2 separate regions of the Homo sapiens genome follow, and region 1 is linked to region 2. Evidence: fine-mapped expression QTL. Tissue or cell type: whole blood. Region 2 holds a variant in brackets; the other region holds the start of a gene. All regions are shown on one strand. Distances are from middle to middle.

What was found. PIP is the estimated chance that this variant, and not a neighbour inherited with it, causes the effect.
Region 1: it holds the start of MXI1, and the variant in region 2 is fine-mapped to the expression of MXI1 in whole blood (TOPMed, PIP above 0.99).

What each region holds. Positions count from the first base shown.
Region 1 is chr10:110,205,075-110,209,237 of GRCh38, forward strand. MXI1 (MAX interactor 1, dimerization protein) reads left to right here and starts at 2,531. Exons shown (of 6, transcript NM_130439.3): 1 at 2,531-3,008. The coding sequence starts at 2,735. RefSeq lists an enhancer at 612-1,112 and a silencer at 2,702-2,781.
Region 2 is chr10:110,267,629-110,271,791 of GRCh38, forward strand. The region is part of intron 3 of MXI1 (MAX interactor 1, dimerization protein); the gene reads left to right. Among named protein-coding and RNA genes, the nearest start is that of SMNDC1, 35 kb to the right of the region's middle. The variant T/A (reference allele first, on the strand shown) is at 2,019.

The DNA.
Region 1 (4,163 bases), 63 kb before region 2:
TCTGTTAATTGGGGAACGGAGCGGGAGAAGGGAGAGAGCAATGGGATGTTAATATGATTTAACACTTGATGGGCTCTGAAAACAAATAAGGAGGGGGCTTCGGGCTTTAGCTTGGCACATTCGTCGTTCCACATACGTGTTACCAAAATGAATATATGCAACTAAACTATATGCGAGACTCTGGGGGCACAGTAACACAGACTTTGTGAAACAAAAAGGCATTTCTCCTGCTTCCACTGTGTCTCTTGTGGTGCCATTGTCTGATGCTAAGAACTCACATAATAACAAAAAACAATGCCCCTATGATGGGGGGAAAACTTGATTTGGCACCAGCCGTGGTGTTTTCCATGGGAATGATGGTGGGGGCTGTGGCCGACTGTGGGAATAGTGCAAATCAGCACTTTTTTGTAGATTTTCTTCAAGCCATTGTTTATTTTGGCTTTGGTCAGATCCGTGGCCCAGCTTGAAGATTCCCACTGGGCTTTCTGAAACTCGCAGACCTATGAGAGATGGAACAGGGATAAATAAATAATTACAAAACACCCTTCCCCCACCATGGCACTCATGCATGCGTGTGCCTGTCTTGGTGGTGCATGTATGTTGCAGTACTATACATCTGACCCATGCCACCAATGGGCAATTAAAGAGAAAGCAAGGTTTTCTCTGGGCTTAGCTGGTTCATTGTCTCAGTACCATCTTTCATTTGGGGCAAGAGAGATCAGAGCTGTTTCACACAAGGGCCAGTTTTTGCAAAATGGCATTGGAGAAAGCTTGTTTGAAACTGTGCATACATGAGGTCTTCCTAACATTTTTAGATGTTTACAGGCATTTCAACACGAATAACTCAGGTTGTGGTTCTCACAGAAGCAAAAAATCAGTAATTGTTCTAATAATGGAAGATAAACTTTTTTTTTTTTTTTTTTTGAGACGGAGTCTGGCTCTGTCGCCCAGGCTGGAGTGCAGTGGCGCTATCTCGGCTCACTACAAGCTCCGCCTCCCGGGTTCACGCCATTCTCCTGCCTCAGCCTCCGGAGTAGCTGGGATTACAGGCATGCGCCACCACGCCCGGCTAATTTTGTATTTTTGGTAGAGACAGCGTTTCTCTATGTTGGTCAGGCTGGTCGCGAACTCCCAACCTCAGGTGATCTGCCCGCTTTGGCCTCCCAAAGTGCTGGGATTACAGGCGTGAGCCACTGCGTCCGGCCATCAAGAGTTTTTATGACAATGTGTATGAAGCTGCCTTTGAGTAGGGTGGCTGCATCGCACACCTCCAGGGGGCAGCATTGTCTTTGTCCTCTATATAAATGGTTCCCCTGGAGGAAAACTCCAGGTGACCTTGCAAAGTAACCATATTTAGATGGGCTTGTCATAGAGATATTTTCCAAGGAAGTGCAGAAGAGTCTTGTTCACTACATCTTGTTCCTTTCTTAGATACAAGTTACATCAGAATAGGGGACTCAGGCTCTTGCCTGGGTCTGGATTGGAAGAAAAAGAGCTTACCATGGGCCAGAGTGTGCTAAGTCAGATACAATACACAAGCATCTTATCACACATTTCAATGATGTGGAAACTTAGGCCAAGAGAGGTTAAGGGACTTGTCCAAGCTCACACAGTCTGTATGCAGCAGAGCTGGGATTTGAACCCTTTCCTATGGCACCCTAGAGCAGCCTTCAATCATCCCCTGACACCTCCAGTACTTCCCAGGGCTGGAAAGCATCCATGATTGCGGACAGCAGTGGCAGTGAAACAATGTCAGCTGGGGTAGGGGTTTTCAGAGGCAAAAGGTGGAATTCAGCTGGGGAGGGGGGTGGTTCCTGAGCTGCCACTTCTGCCTCTCAAATTAAAGGGAGCCAGGTGTGGAGGCATCCTGGTGTGAGCTTTGCACAGCTGAACCAAGGCTGGGCAGAGGAGTGTGGAGAGGGATGCTGACATCTCCTCCCACTTCTGGAAAATAACTTTGCATTTGAAGGGAGAAAGGCATGAGTAAATCTGTAACTCGGATTTGGACGGCCTGGGATTTCATTTGACTGTGTGAAGGCACACACAGGTGCCTCGCAAGTGTGTGCGTGATTACGTATGTATGTGTGTCTGTGAGTAGGAGTGTTTGTGTTGGGGGTGGGGGGATCTTCTGGTTACACACTGGTTCCCTTCTTCCCATTTGGATTGGGGAGCTTTTATTTATTTATTTTTAAGTCATAGCAGCCACCATGTATGGGGACCTAACTATGTGCCAGGCATTGTGCTGGACACTTTCTGAGGCATTATTTTTCTGTGAAAAAAGTAGTTTGTTTTTATGCAGGTGCACCCAGAGACATCAGGTATTTTTTTCCATTCCGGTTAAAAGACAGTGTTCTACTCTGTGGTAAGCCTTGGGGAGAGGCAGGGAAGCCTGCGGGGACGGGCAGGGGCGGTCCCTGCCTCGCTCGCTAGTCTCCACCTTTTATTTTGACCGGTCCGATGGCGACAGGCTCGCACTAGGACCCAGGCGCCAGAGTGCCTCCGTCTGTCCTGTAGGTTCATTCAATCTCCCATACACACAGACTCACAGCGAGACCGACACACACTCCCATACACTCACACACACAACTGCAGGCAGCGAGGCTCGGGAAGTCAGGCCGGCTTTTCGCCCCGGCGCCTTCTCTGCTCCAGCCGGCCGGGTCTCCCTGGGGGCCCGGAGCTCGGCCGGGCCGCGCAGCCCCGTTAGAGGACGAGCTCGGCGGACCCCCGCTCCTCCATGGGCAAACGCGGGCGGCCGCGCAAGGAGGCGCGCTGCGAGGGCGCGGGGCTGGCCCCCGCCGCGCCCCCGGCTGTGCCCCCCGCCGTGGCCGCGCCCCAGCCCCCGGCCCTGCCCGAGGACCCCGCTGGGGCCAAGCCCAGGTGCCCCTTCTCAGACATTTTCAACACCAGCGAGAACTCGATGGAGAAGCACATCAACACTTTTCTGCAGAACGTGCAGATTCTGCTCGAGGCCGCCAGCTACCTGGAGCAGATCGAGAAAGAAAACAAAAGTAAGTTTGGGGGCCCCTGCTCTTCCTCGGCGCCCGGTTCTTTCTTTCTCGCCCACTTGGGCGACCCCTGTTGCGAGCTCGGCCCGTCCCCCCCCCGCCCAACATACACATCCAGCCCTTGGCAGTAAAGCCGATGACACCGGAGAAAGGACACGCACGCACAAAGCTGCTAAAGATGTAACAAAGACGGGCGAGGGGGAGAGGGGCCTGTCGGTGCGTCGGTCTGTCCTCTCCGGCGGGCTGGGGCTGGGAGGATGGCCCAGCGGAGGAGCGGGGGAGTGTTGTTGTTTGCTGACAACTGAGCCGAGAGCTCATCTCTTTGAGGTCGCTTTTCTTCCTTTTTTTTTTTTTTTTTTCCGGAGCCTTCTCAGGCAGACAAGTGTTGTTTTTCTGTTGCTCGTTCCTGGGTGGGGTGGGGATTAGAAGCCGAAAGTTGGAAACCATAGGCAGAGCTCAGAGGTTCCAGAAAGAAAACACACAGACACACACTACAACAATAACAACCAAACAGCTCTCCACGGCGTGGGCTCGGCTCTGTCTCTCTCTCTCCCTCCTACTTCGCCTTTTTCCTTCCCTCTAGCAGCAGGACTGGGCTCAGGCCATCACGTCTACGGACACAGTCCCCCTGCACGTCCGTTGCCGTGGGGTGCCACCGCCGCCCCCCCCCCCCCAAAGAAGGAGGCCGGCGGGGCCAAGCAACGCCAGCAGCTCGCCCCGGACACGCCGTCCTGAGCCCGGGAAACTTGGCCGTGGGGACGCGGCTAGAAGGAAACTTTGGGATCTTTGAGAAACAATAGTTGGGGAAGAAGGTGTGGGCTGTTCTGTGCTTTTTCTTTATTTTCCGGGAGACGGCTCTTGAGTGAGCGCACAGGGCAAGCAAGGCAAACGCCTTCCTGGTCGATTTCTACTCCCCCCACCCGCCCACCCCCAGATTCACGTGGATAGTAGTGCGTGGGTGGGGGTGTGCTGGGAACCCCACCCTGGCCTGGCTTCTTTTTTGTATTTATTTGTTTCATTTTTGCCCCTACCAGCCAGGTCACCCAGCTTTCCCCAGGCAGTCGACTCAGCGCCCTAACGGGGGCACGCGTGTGCAGCGTATCCAGCACCGTCCTCAGAATAATAGCTGTGAAAAGGAGGAAGGGAACTAGGCAGACA
Region 2 (4,163 bases):
GCAGTTAAAACATTTGTAAACATAACACAATTTAGATAGAGCTGATTGACTTTTCAAGACTGCTATTTTTATAATGGAAAAGAATTTTTCTTAAAGAAGCAATTTGGTGATGGGGCCCTTAGAATGTCCTTGAAAACAGCTGGAATTTACTGCTAGCATATATTGGGTCAGATGAATGAGGGAGCATGGGTTTGGCTGATTTGCAATGTTCAAGAAATATTGATATTCTTAGAAGACAATACAGAATATATGTTGGGTCTTATTTTCCAAAATGTCAAAGTGTCCTTCATATGCCTTTTGTTCTGTGAGATAACAGTTGTTGGTGATCCTGAAAGATGTTTTAGAACTTTCATCCTGCAGTATCTGAAAGGAAATGTAGCCAAGATTGGAAAATTTAACCTCCATACTCTACTGGCTTCTTTAGTTGGAGTAGTGGTCAATATGTTCTTGCTGTTGGAATATACTTAGGCGAGAGAGCCACACAACCTGCCTGATGAACAACTAAAATATTGACTGGCAATGGTAACAAAATAAAACATGTTCCCCTCCACCTGTCTCTTCCTTCTTTTCTCAAATCCCTGGAACTGTATAGATTTTTCAGGGCTGTTCTCCTGAGCTATTGATGAAATGAAAATAATAGCACTTGTGTAGCAGTCCTTAGAAAACTGTAATGGTATTGAGCTGAGGCTGGAATCATATAAAATAAATACTAGAGCTTTGATTCCTCTCTCATTTAATCTTTTCCTGGGCTTTTCTAGAGGAGAGTCAAACTAAGATTTAGACAAATATAAATAGAAGCAAGTCACACAGTGTAATGTTGCAACCCAGATATAACTTGAACCCAGTCTTTTACTTGATAAAGAGGAGATAATTGTAATTGTTGTTAATCTATCAAACACCTTTCCCTTTTCAGAAGGGTTTTAAAAAATAAAGTAGTTCTTAAGGCATGTTCACTTTCTATCTACCTAAAAGTGCTAATCTGTAAGTGCCCTACTATATATAACACTGAGAAAATTTCTGCCTTATCAGAGGAGGGCATGCCCAGGATTGGTGCCAGGTGTTGTGTTATGCTAGGCTGCCTCCAAAAGTTACTCTCAAAAACTACTCTTCAGTTGGGCCCTTTGTGGTCAGGAAAAAAAAAAAGTGATACAGTATAATGAAAGAGAGGTCAAAACAGTTAAGTAATTTAGAAATAAAAAGACATACCAAAACATTGATTCTCTATTATTATCAGGGACTATGGCGTATTTTAAATTCTGTAAATTTTATTTTTCCAGAGGTTGCAAATGGCCTGTAAATGCTTCAGTTATTAACAACAACAACAACACATACACACATACACACTGGCCAACAATTCCTCTTTGTTACCCTTTTTCTACTGCAAATTTTATCTCCTCCTCACCAAAAAACAAACTGCATTTTGATTTTGGGAAAATTGTTCTAAAATGGGACTTTAAAAATAATTCCTGGCTGGCTTGACTGGATTGGCAGATGTCCAGCAATGCCAAACCATTTGCCATCTGCCAGTAGTAAGCATGGTTACCACTTTTAATCGTTTAGCTCTCTATTTCAGGTTGCTCATATTCAGTACAAATTATGAATATTCGCCTTCCAGGGATGAATTAATTCTTGGGCCAGATTGTTCCTGTTCCATTTAATAAAATGTCTTTCCTCCTATATGAATATTCCCCTTAAAATGAGCTATTATACAACTCACATCTTATTAGTAGGGCCACTTTTAAAGGTGCTTTGCTATTTTCATTTTCTGCTTCTAGATGAACAGCTATATTACAAAGCATTCTTTAAATGTGCTGTTTTGTGCTATGTAAGATCACCATTTTAATTAGAGATCAGTAACAGTATTTCGTCATTTCCCTCTTCCATCCTGGACAATAATTTGATACAATAAAGCAGTTACACTGGGCTCTGGGTGGGAATAGAGCTGTGAGAGTTAGACTTAAACTTTTGTAGAAGAGAAGACTTAATTCTTGCATTTTGTACATAAAATTAGGTCAGTG[T/A]CTTGTAGAACATTATCACTGCGTCTCAGATCTCACTTGCCAGCACGTAGGAAGTTTGTTTTGGTTTCAAAATGTACTTTACCCCATGGTGGCTGGCAGGGTACAATACTATTGACATCACTGTGTTTCAAATAGAAAGTTAACAAGTAGCTACTGTTGTGATTGCAGATTGCCTTCCCAGTCCCTGTGAGAGAATGCTTTTTCTTTTGGACAGCAACACTTCTCAGCCCCTTGGTACCATTAAATCAGCCAATGGGGGCTGCCAGAATAGAGATGAACACCAACAAAAGGCCAAAGAGTAGAAAAACTGTTAATAAGGCAAAAATCTTTAATCAGTTTCCAAATTGATGTGAAAGATAATTAAAAAATATTCTCTCCCATCGATGGCTAAGTTTTGACAGTAGTCCAGGTTCAGAGCCTGATCTCTCTAGAGAGGAGTATCCCTTCCCTCTACCCAGACCCCTGGAAAGTTGCCAAAGGAAAATAAGCTATTTTGTATTTAGAACAAATTGCCACTGTTTTCTCCAGTGATGTAGCCCTATTTCCCAGACTTTGAAACTTGGAATACAGAAAGTTCTTGTGTGACCAAAGAAGAAATATGGTGAATGAATGATCAAGTTTTTCTTTTTAACTAAATCCTTATAAACAGATAAGAGAGGGGAAGTATGCATAGAAACTAAATTTAGCACAGAATGGATGTCAAGTGAGCAATTTCTGTTAAATCACTTTGGAGTTTGGGTTCCTTGTGGGAGTTCCAGTGAAGAACAAATGCCTCTGGAACAAGATTTAATTATTTTTTTTTTTTTCAAATGAGGCTGTCAAAAATGAAGTCTTCCTTAGACATGAATGCAGGATAATTAAAAAAAATAGTTGTTTATATGTTCTGCACTATAGTCTTCAACTTAGCAAGCAGTCCATGGATCTGGTAAGCATACACTAGTTTCTCATTTATTACATGGGATTAAGAACTGTTGACTTAATTTTTTTCTTCTTTGCATTGTGGAATATTGCTTTTTAGACTTTCCCTTCTCATACCTTGGTTTTCTTAGCTGTTTGTTTTCCTAGTCCTAGGCCCCTTTCACTGTAAATACTTTGATAAAGTCATTCTGTTGTAAAAGCTGCAGTTCTTAAACCCTTTGCTTCACTATTAAAAAAGGTGTTGGCCGGTTGCGGTGGCTCATGCCTATAATCCTAGCACTTTGGGAGGCCGAGGCGGGCAGATTGCCTGAGCTCAGGAGTCCGAAACCACCCTGGGCAATATGGTGAAACCCCGTCTCTAGTAAAATAAAATAAAAAAAAATTAGGCTTGGTGGCACATGCCTGTAATCCCAGCTACTCAGGAGGCTGAGGCAGGATAATTGCTTGAGCCTGGGAGGCGGAGGTTGCAGTGAGCCGAGATCGCGCCACTGCACTCCAGCTTGGGCAACAGAGTGAAACTACGTCTCAAAAAAAAAAAAAAGTGTTGACTCTCATCAAGAGTTAGGTTGGAGACTGTTGGTTACTCTACATGTAGACATCTTTGGTGGTATGCACCTTATTAACATTTGCTGGTGATTTCAGCTGCACCAGAAAAAAAAAAGGTTAAGAGTTCTGGCATTCATAAATAGATCTCTCACAAATGCTGGCCTGGCATCTGATTATACTGTTTGGAGGTCCTGGTGTTGATTGTTACCTCAACTTTGGTGAGTTAGAGAGTCCCAGAAACATCCACTAGAAGTATTACATCTCTCCTCCCCACTGTGTGCCAGTCATTCTGTTTATTTGAAAAACAGAAATGACTAAAAGTATGGATTCACTCTCAATTGAAATACAGTGTGATTAGTATGAAATCAAGTATCATCTGAGGAAGGAGTATGGCAAGGATGATCTTGTGGAAGAAATTGTTTGGCCATGGCCTGAAAATGAGTTAGATGCCCACCAGGTGGACATTTGGAGAGAATGCATTCCAGGTAGAGATATTGGCAAGTATAAAAGCACATTTGGTTATGGAAGAGGTTTGCAAGGGTATGAGTTATGGGAAATGAGGCTGGAAAGGTGGTAGGCAGAGGACTAAATTATAGTCTTCAAACAGGTAAAGATTATACTACTGACAACTTGAAAAATCGTTATAGCATTTAGCTCAGTGGTATAATAAGGCACTATTGT